Linked DNA regions of Homo sapiens: region 2 is linked to region 1. The links come from fine-mapping of genetic effects on plasma protein levels. A gene starts in region 1. The other region holds a variant in brackets. All regions are shown on one strand. Distances are between the middles of the regions.

The links. PIP is the posterior inclusion probability: the model's chance that the variant is causal. Protein levels are from the aptamer-based SomaScan assay of Sun 2018.
Region 2: its variant is fine-mapped to the plasma level of the PDCD1LG2 protein (Sun 2018, PIP 0.95). The variant lies in the coding sequence of PDCD1LG2. If it changes the protein, the assay may bind it differently, which can mimic a change of level.

The regions. Positions count from the first base shown.
Region 1 is chr9:5,508,020-5,513,547 of GRCh38, reverse strand. It overlaps PDCD1LG2 (programmed cell death 1 ligand 2), which reads right to left and starts at 3,017. Exons shown (of 7, transcript NM_025239.4): 1 at 2,745-3,017. All of the region lies in intron 2 of INCR1 (interferon stimulated noncoding RNA 1), which reads left to right. RefSeq lists enhancers at 2,919-2,968, 3,129-3,188, 3,249-3,328, 3,270-4,469.
Region 2 is chr9:5,555,616-5,560,615 of GRCh38, reverse strand. PDCD1LG2 (programmed cell death 1 ligand 2) reads right to left here. Exons shown (of 7, transcript NM_025239.4): 5 at 2,864-2,998. The region is part of intron 1 of INCR1 (interferon stimulated noncoding RNA 1); the gene reads left to right. Among named protein-coding and RNA genes, the nearest start is that of PDCD1LG2, 48 kb to the right of the region's middle. The variant A/G (reference allele first, on the strand shown) is at 2,908.

The DNA.
Region 1 (5,528 bases):
TCATAGAATAATTTATCATTGGAGAATTCATAGAGGGTTTCCTCTAAGAAAGGGCCCTTGCCCTTAAAGACATTGTACCATAATTGGAAGGTTAAAACTCTCACACATGAAAAATAGTAAAACTGATGTAAAACAAGTGATAAAATTGCAAAAGCCCTAGAAGTTGACTAAAGGAAGGGAGACTTCCCAGAGGGGTAGGATTTGAACTGGGCCTTTGAAGCACTGGTAGGATTTGGGGTTGAAGCTATTCTAAAGGGCAGTGCATAGCTGACTCAGAAGCAGTCTCAGAGGTGCAAATGCACAGGCGTGTTGAGGGGACAATGAACAGAGTAACTTGGCTGGACACTTAGGTTGAGAATGTCAAGAGCTTAATGCCAGGCAGAGCTGCCAATCGGGAAATAGTGGCAGTCACTCAAAAACTAAGTGACAATACCAAAGGAGTATCTGAAAAAGATTACATCTAATTTTTTTTTTGAGTATAGAATTGAGGGTGGGTGGAATTGGTAGACAGCCTCTCAATTAGGGGGTCACTGTATTCATCTAGATGTTTGGTAACAAGGCCCTAACTTCAGGTCAGAAAAAGGAAGCAAGGAAGAGGAAGAAGAAACATATAAGACAATTGACAAAACAATTGACTGCTGATCAGCCATGCACAAGAGACAAAGAGAAAAGCAACAAGATTGACTGTGGTTTTAAGACCAGACTGGCAAGACAATATTGGAGCCATGGGGGAGGAAGGGTGGCAGGGAGAAATAGAAGATGGGGAGCTGATTTTAGAGGGAAGACAGTAAGTTTGGTTTTAGTCTGGGCAAGGCATAAGCATTCCAAAAAATTGTAGGTCCAGAGTTTGGGACAAAATTTAGGGCTAAAGATAAGGAAGTTATTTCTAATATGGAAATGTTAGTTAATATTGAGGAATGAATGAACCATCTGATGGGGAGAATATAAAAGAAAGATTATAAAGAAAAGATCTGAACTCAGGAACGTCCCAAAATTTGGAGAGCAGGAACAGAGGACTAGTGAAAAAGGCAGAGACAAGGTGGTCAGAAGAGCATCAGAAGCTCCCCCAGGGCAGTACTTCTGAGGCAATGGAGGAAAATCCCTCAAAGCAGGGGCAGTTCATCATAGGGAGCCGTGAAGACTAAGAACTGGAAGTCAGCCCACAGGTGTGTTAGAGACAGCTGGAAGGCATCAGAGGTGACTGGGGCTAGATAACCTTTCAGATGCTCTTGTCTGTCCTGGAATTCTGTGAGTTGATTTGAAGGTTATCGAGCCCAGCTACAGTGGAGCAGGGTGTGGCATGAGGAGGTGATACTACAGTTGCCCCTTTACAGAGTAACCCACGTATGCAACAATTAAGACATATGACATATTTGGACATTAGCATGTGGAATTAAAATGACACACAACAATCTACTGGTTGCTGTCCAATGTATTGTAAAGCAAATAAACTCTGAAGCATGACCCATAATACTGTCTCTACCATCTCCTTTTTCAAATCAACCTCAAACTTCCCCCTGTCCATTACACGAACATTTCATTTCTGGTGATTCTCCTGACATTTCATCAAATAAATCCATTCAACAATTCGGCAAGCACCCACTAAGCACCTATGTGTATTGCCAGGTACTGCACTAGGAACTTGGGACTCAGAGAACCTTAAAGGTGTGCTTCTTGCCTGTGAGGAGCTCCAGTTCAATGGAAAAGCTCACCAACAGGAGAAATCTGGGGAGAAGACACCCTGAAGCAGCAGACAACAAAGAGCCTGATGATGGGGAGACCTCAAATAATGAAGGCAAATAGATCAGGTTCCAGTGGCAAGAGCAGCAGGACCAGGATTGTTCATCCACTCACAGAATCTTAGGCTTGGAAAGGAGCTTGGAGGACATCCAGGCCAACTCCGTATTTGACCCTGATACAACTGTCTCATTACTGCTCACACTGAATATTTTTACTCTGCATTTTGTCAATTTAGGTCTCTCATTCCCTGCCCCTCAGAGCCATAGTATTTTTGGGTTAAAAGTCCTGATTAGTTGGTAATCTCACTCAGGCTTAGCCTCTCCACCTCCATCCCCTCCACATGAACCCATTGCCTTTGCTCTTCTACTCAGTGCATCCAGGCGGTGAGCAATCAATAGCAATTATTTCAGTTCTGTTTAATTTTTCTACCTTTTCGCTGATCATTTTATATGGAAAGAATAAGCCTTTCCATAGTCCCCAAATCATGCTTTTGTTCAATAATGATTACCTCTATAAGTTATTAAGATAATAGTTTTGGGTTTTTTGTTTTTGTTCCCCCTCCACCAACAGCTGCCTCTTAGGCATAGCTTGTAAACAAAGGCCAGCCTGGAGGGATCACCGTCTGCTAAATGGATAATCACAAACAGATGTCAGTCATAGGAAAACAGATTTTTAAGTTCTTCACCATTAAGCCTCCGAAAACTCTAAGCTGAGAGACAATCTTAAGAATAGTTATATTATTTTACAGTGCACATATTTGGTGCAGAAAATATCTCACCTTATAAAACTGAGCAACAAGAACAATATGCATAGGAACAAGTGAGAGAAATCTGGGGCAGGAGGACATTAGCTTATTTGTGCCCCTCAGCACAATTTCTGAGGCAGAATGTCTCTTGCCTCAAATGGTGTGGAGAGAAGGTAGGCCACCCTTCCCCCACCCTGGCAGCCTCATCATGGTCCACAACATAATAGTATGAGAGTATCTCAACCCACTCGTTACTCACATGAGGACTTGCCACAGCTCCACAAGTAAAGATGCAAAAGTAAACAACAAAAAACAGTTGCTGTTTGTGTTAGATTTCCTTATAGTAGCCACCAAAATGAACAGCCAAAAGGAAAAACAAAACAATCAACATGCAGTAGCTCCAACCCAGGATTCTTTCTAGCTGGGACATATGAGGATGGGTAACAAAAAAGCACTCAAAATTTGGCGTTAAGATATATTCAAGAGAAGAAAAGTTGTTCATTCAGCTTAAGGTTTGCCGTAACATGAGAGTGAGTCAAACCAGAACTAGTTCTGAGGAACTGACGAAAGCCTGGCTTATTTGGAAAGTTTTGGTTTTGCTTTTAGCAGTTTGTCTGTGAATGGGATTGCATTCCTGATTTGGCTCTTGGCTTAGCTATGGTTGGTGTTTAGGAATACTAGTGATTTTTGTATGTTCATGTGGGATCCTGAAACTTTCTGAAGTTTATCAGCTTAAGGAGCTTTTGGGCTGAGACTGTGGGATTTTCTAGATATAAAATTATGTCATCTGCAAACATGGGTAGTTTGACTTCCTCTCTTCCTTCTTGGATGCCTTTTCTTTCTTTCTCTTGCCTGATTGCTCTGGCCAGGACTTCCAATAGTATGGTGAATAGGAGTGGTGAGAGAAGGCAGCCTTGTCTTGTGCCGGTTTTCAAGGGGCATCCTTCCAGCTTTTGCCTATTCAGTGTGATGTTGGCTGTGGGTTCATCATAGATGGCTCTTATTATTTTGAGGTATGTTCCTTCAATACCTGGTTTGTTGAGAGTCTTTTTTTTAACATACCTTGAGAGTTTTTAATACCCTTTTATTCCCTCTCTTTCCCCTATTCTTATATGTGCTCCAGCTTCCCCATTGTCCCTGGAGCACATTTAGGAATAGGGGAAAGGGATGGAATGAAGAATACCAGCATGTCTTAGTGCTGTGCCAGGAAATTGACTCATTTCCTAGGGCTTCTGTAACACATGACCTCAAGTCCTTGGCATTCCCTGACTTATAGTTGTATCACTCCAATCTCTGCCTCCATCTTCAAATGACATTCTTTTCTGTGTGTATCTCTACATTCCTCTCCTCTTATGAGGATACCATCCGTTTGATTAGTGCCCACCCTAATGCAGTATGACCTCATTTAGACTACATCTGCGTAGACCCTACTTCCAAATATAGTCACATTCTGAGGTCCTCAGTAGACATGAATTTGGGGGGAACATTATTCAACTAACCTCACTTCATTTCATAGTGCCTCATTTCATTCTCAGTGCAATGTGTGGTTTAGAGTTAGACCCATTTTACACATGAGAAAACAGGACCAAGATCAAACAATGTTTCCTTAGTTGCATGGCTGAATTTGAACTCGGACCTCAGTGGCCCCACTATACCTTCAGGCTTGTGATTGGTGAGATTAAAACCACATGGCAAGAAAAGGCAAACTTGAATATAGGCCTGAATGATCAATCCTTCTCCTGCTGCCTCCCGCCCTTTTCCTTGTGCTTATAGGGGTAGGACCAGCAGAGATGTGGGGCTGAACACTCAGACAGAGGATGTTTTTAAGAAAACATCTCTCCTTGCCTGTCCTCTAAGCCTTCCCTGCCTCCTTGTTTCTTCTACAAAAGCAAGGATCTCCTTTCCTCCTCCTTGTCCTGCATCCTCTTTTCGTCCCATCGCTTGAACAAGAAGTACTTTAAGAAGTACTACGAAGCTGTGTAGTACCTACAGATGGGAGTGGCTGCCTAGACGGCAAGAGTTGGGACTGTGTCTGTGGGACCCGTGCTTCCTCTGGGGATCTGCTTCTACACCCACGGCTCCAGGCATGTGGTTTCCTTAGGAGTTGCCATTCTCTTACCTGACCCTCTGTTCCTGGCCACAGTGACTGGCTGAGGAATGGACATATGTCCCCTGTGTGGCTTTGAGTTTTAGTATCTATGGAAAACACACCTCACCTACCAGAGTTCCTGTCCTTCTTTAGGAGTGAGGTGCACTCACCACAGTTTCCTTTCCTCTCTCTTGGGTAGCCTTTCTCCAGGCTTGGCCTGCCTCTCCTCTTCACACTTTCCTTTGGGCAGTTCAGCTCTGCTTTGCCACAGTTTAGGGCATCCTGAAGCAAAGGAAGGCCCAGGTATATTCACAGCAAGGCCAAATGAAACTCAAGCTAGTGTCTCAGCACATTAGCCTGCCTCATAAATCTATATGTCTAGAGAAAATAATGGAGGGTTACAAACCAAAGTGTTAATAAAGGCATTTCTGGGTGGAGGTAACTTTTTTTAGTTTTTTGTTAAACTTTTGTTTTACATAGGTAACTTTTTTAGTTTTTTGTTAAACTTTTATTTTACATAGGTAAACTCGTGTCATGGAGGTTTGTCATACAGATTATTTTGTCCCCTAGATACTAAGCCTAGAACCCAGTCATTTTTTTTTTTTTTTTTTTTTTTTTTTTTTTTTTTTTTGCTCATCTCCCTCCTCCCTGGGGCCTCCACCCTCAGCTAGGCTCCAGTTTGTGTTGTTCCCCTCTTTGTGTCCATGTGTTCTTATCACTTAGCTCCCACTTATATGTGAACACATGTGGTATTTGGTTTTCTGTTCCTGCATTAATTTGCTAAGCATAATGACTTCCAGCTCCATCCATGTTCCCGCAAAGGACATGCTCTTTTTTACGGCTCTATAGTATTCCTTGGTGTATATGTACCACATTTTCTTTATCCAGTCTGTCGTTGATGGGCATTTAGGTTGATTCCATGTCTTTGCTATTGTGAATAGTGCTATGATGAAC
Region 2 (5,000 bases), 47 kb before region 1:
AGGGAAGAGGCTGGCTGTGTGCAGCTGTGGCTAAGGCAGGGACCTCCTCCTACCTCATCAACCCATAGGGGTCCTGCTTTGGGACCAATGACAGAGCATGTGTTGGGGAACCATAAGAACTGTAATCTTGTAGCACTGTGGTCTGTGTGGGGATCGGAACCAGCAAGGTTACCTTTGCACAGTGGATGGAGACATCTGGAAGGACCAGAGATTCTGCATGGCCGGAGTAGACAGCAACTGCTCAAAACCAGGGCCCTCTGGAGGACTAACCTAGCTGCCTAGCACTGGCCCTGTGGGCTAAGTAAGCTTTCTGGCAGTTTGTGGGAGGTGGAGAAGTACATGCTATAAGAGGGAGACACTGAACTTCTTGCTAAGATGGGCATGTGGGTACTTGAGGAATCAATTGGAAAATTAAAAGGGATGCAATTTAATTGGTAGTCCAAGCTATTAAAACAGATCCTAGACATGTGATTGTGTGCTGAGTATACTGAAAGAAGAAGTAGGTGCTATGGAAACATATAATAAGGGGATTTAATGTAATGGGTGTGGTGCGTGGAGGTAGAATTAGGAAAGACTTGATGAAGTATAAGCTTAGCTGAGATTTAAAAGATGACTCCAACTCAGGTGGACAACAAGAAAAAATATTTTAAGAAGAGACAATATTGTATGAGAAAACTCGGAATTGAAAGACTGCCATGCCTCTGAGGACTAGAAAATCCTGTGTGGTTAGAGCTTTAGACAATGAAGGTGATGGTGATGCAGTTAAAGCTGGAGACATGAGTCAAACCATCCTGGGCTCGTTGGAACTTCATCCAGTGAGCAATAAGAAGCCATGGAGAAGGTCTGGACAGAGGACACATGGTAGATTTATGATTTTTAAAAGCCTATTATAGCAAAAAGTGAGAACAGACCAAGTTGGAGGTAGCAGGAGTGAATACAGGGAAACCAGTTAGGAAGATTTCTCTGTAGTCCAAGTTGAACCACACTAGCGGCAGTGAAGTTCGGCCAATAAGCTGTAAAATGTTCCTTCTCTTGCTGCTTCCCCTTTTACAGATAGAAAGACCATCTCAAAGAAGATAGGCAATTTGTACAAGGTCAGAAAGCCAACAAATGGCAGCACAAGGTCCCAGCCTAGCCCTCTGACCCTGGTTTAAAGCTCTGTCTGCATCACCAGCAGTTCTCAACCCTTTTCCATGGCACACAAGTTTGTGTGCATGGCAGACACATGTAAGAAAGCAGATCTGAATGCAAGTGAGTTGGAGACAAGGGTTATATAGGCAACCATGATTTCTCTCTGGTTCATTAAAAATATAAAAGAAATTGTTTGCACATTTATTCACTTAATTCTTATTTGTAAGAAAGGTCTCCTAATCACAGTTAGAACTTGAGCTTTACCTCCCAGCTCGGAGCTACTGATATCCTCACTCACTCTTAAGATTGGGGTGAAGGATGAGGAGAGGATTTATTTCCACTCTATCTTTGAGTGTGACTCCATTCCATTCTCCCAAAGACAGCTGGAACGGAACACTCAGCTGCTCATTTCTGAAGTTATTAAGGAGTCCTCAGGCCCCAGGCCTTGAACCCTGAGGTATGGGTGTGAGAGGTAAAAGAAGAATGGCAGAAGATAAGACAACTGAGGTGCACCTGACACAACTCTCTGAAGTGGTTCTATTTAAAAGTCGAAGTTCTGTTGGACATACCTCCTCCTTTACCATGAAGCTCCCTTCCCTCCCACATTTATTTTTCTTTCTATCTTTCTTCTTCTCCATCTCCTGTTTTCTCTTTCTCCCTCACTCCCCTGGCCATCTTCTTCCCTCCCTCTGTCTTTTTCTTTTGGCAACAATTCCTTGCATTCTACAGTTAGAAATATTGTGGTCAGCACCCAAGTGAATACATACACACATAGGGCAATGGACAAATAGAACATGACAATATTTTATGGCAGATGAAAATATAGAAGTTATGAGTATAAATGTAAGATAACAACCACTTAAAATTCCCCTAGTCCTCAGATAGTGCTGCTGCAAACTCCTACTGAATTATTTCCACATGTCATTTCTCTTTCTATAGATGAGGCCATGTATAGATCTTTGGAGAAGTTCATTGAGTGCAGACAAGGGAGCCGTTTAGGAAAGCACCAGCTAGGCCTGCATACATTCTGGGGGTTTTGTGGGCAGGCTCCACCCAGGAAACCAAAGACAGACACATGAACAATGAAGCAATGAAATCAGGGCTGAAAGGCTTCAGCATGCTCTGTCCCAGCTGGTACAACAGAACAGGAGTGTGTTGGTAAGAATACAACAGGCTAAGGAGAAACTCGAAGGGAGCTGCTGAAAGACGTTAATGCACCACCAACCAGCTGTTTCCTTATCCCCAAATGGCCTCACAAACCTTTCTCCTTTCCTTACCCAACCGTGAGGTTGAGATTCCTGGGAGAGGGGGTGGGTTTAACCCAGGTCATATCCAGACTGGGGAAAAGAGGGGTGAAAATGGAAGGAATCCTCAGAAAGGATCCTGGCAACCTCCCACCAGCAAAATCGGAGCACGTAGCTCTCTGCATTGCCAAAATAACATCACTCTCATGAGGCTGATGAAAGCTCTTGGCTCAAAGAATAAGACAAACTCTTTCAGACATAAGAACAAAACATTCCCTTTAAAAAACTCAGTGTAAGAAGTTCAGCTCACTGACGATGAGAGCCATTTTCTTCTGGGGAAAAATAATCATCAAGACAAGCTCAAAGTGGTTCATAAGCTCTGAGTGGGTTTAGCATGAAAGCAGCAAGCCATAGGCCTGCAGTGCAAAGCAGTGGCTCATGCTGCAGACACCCAGTGCATTGGGTTACCATGAATAAAACTCACTTACCTTTTGAAGAATACAGCTTTTGACAGAGTTGTTTTCTTAGGGCT[A/G]TCACTGTGGCTATGAAAATGAAAGCAATGATGCAGAAGGGGATGAAAATGTGAAGCAGCCAAGTTGGATGGGTCCTGGGTTCCATCTGACCTGGGCAAAGGAAAAGCACCAGAATCCTGTTACATGGCAACTAAGAGGTAGACCAACAGGCTGGCCACATGAGTGGGTGACAGCCAACACGGCTAGCTCTGTGGAGCATTTACTCCACACCAGGCCCTATTCTAAGTGCTCTGCACCTATCAGCTCATCCACTCCTCGCAACCACTCTGTGAAGTTGGCTCTGCTATGATCCCCATTTCACTGGTGAAGAAAGGGAGGCACAGAGAGACTAGGAAGCTTTCCCTAAGTTACATAGTAAGTGACCCAGCTAAGATACAGTCTGGTTCCAGATTCTGTGCTTTTTACCACTCTCTCATGTTATTTTTTTCCATCCATCCATCAATCCATCCATCTATCATCTAATCATCTTTCTTTCTTTTTTCTCTTTTTCCTCCCTATCCCCCTTCTCCTCCTCATCCTCTCTCTCTTCCCAGTGGCAAAGTCTCTCAGCCCAAAAATGTCTTTCCCCCACTGACAAGTACTCACAGTGCTTAGAATCTATACCATTAGTTGTTAAATTTCAAGGATTAACAGGATCCTTTTGGAAGAAATAGAATATCCTAGGTAGTGTTAATATACTAAACCTAGTCACTCATGCCTTAGTGTGAATTATTACAATTGGCCCTTTGCCTTGTTTCGGTTTTTCAACGTCCTAGCACTGAGGAAAGGGTGAGTTTAGTAGAGGGTGGATCAGAAGAATAATTCTGGAGGCTGGGGAAAGCCTTGTAAAGTCCTCTGGTGTGTACAGATTAGAACAAGGGCTCCAGACTGACAAAAGGCAGGGCTAGAGGAGTGTTCACCTACAGGGAAATGAAAGGGTACTCAAGTTAATTTGTGCCCTATTCAAAAGCTTGAATTTTGCCTCTGGAGTCATTCACATGGAATAAACATGACAGGCTGGTACAGGAAAAACTGGACGAAACTGCTCAGCGGGAAGGGCTCAGTCCTCCCAACTTCCCAGCCCTCAAACCCCACTACCTCCAGCACAGTGCTATCTGAGAACCACGGATTGTTTTACTGGAGAAGAGATTAGACATTATTTAGTCTGAGCCCCTCATTTTAGAGTTGAGGAAGTAAGTCTCAGAGTTGCTAAATAATCTATGTGAGGTCATCACTGCTAAGTAAAAGTCAATGCCAGGATTGCAAACCCAGATCTATCTGACCCAAAGCTCAGCCCCCACAGATATTTGTCTCCATCCAAAAGAGTGTGATTAACATTAACGAAGAAAAGATAAGGAGCCTTGCTCATCCAAACATTGGATAACCCATATTGATTATAATCTGCTTCTTAATTTCTAGTAAGTGCTTAGTAAGCACTTTGTGAGTCAAGGAGACCTGGGCCTCTCACTGTCCCCACAACAGGAGAGGTCCCTACCTCAGTGTCTTTATGCAAACCCTTGTCCTGTGCAGGTTCCCTCATAGTCTCTTCCACGTACAGAAGCCCTACTCATCCCTGAAGACTCCAAAGTTGAACATCCAGTAGGAAATCAGTCTGCTTAGACTGTATTTGGAGGGCAAAGGCCTTATCTAAACTACCTCTGAGTCCTCTCTAGATAGAGCCAAGCAACAGCTACATGAAAAGTGCCAATATGGAATTGTTGCACTGAATTGACTGTCTCTTTTCTAGTCCACCTAGCCTGATCCTCCTAGTCATTTGTTACCTTGTGGTATACTGCTGGTTAATCCATTCTTTCTTTCAACTTTAGTATTAGGGAATTAGCTGGACACATGGCTTCTCAGAGACTATGTTTCCAAGCCTCCCCTATAGTTAAGTGGGCCCAGCCATGTAATCTAAGTTCAGGCTAAGAGAGTGAGTTTTCAAGGTCTTGGCCTTAAAACATTGAATGTGTTTTCCACCACTCGTTTACTTTCTGAAGGTTGAAACATGGGTTTGGCACTGACTGAGCTTTGACAATTTTATAGGGACAACATCCTGGAGAATGGCAGAGCAACAGATGAAAATAATCTGGATCACTGAATGACTCTATGGAAC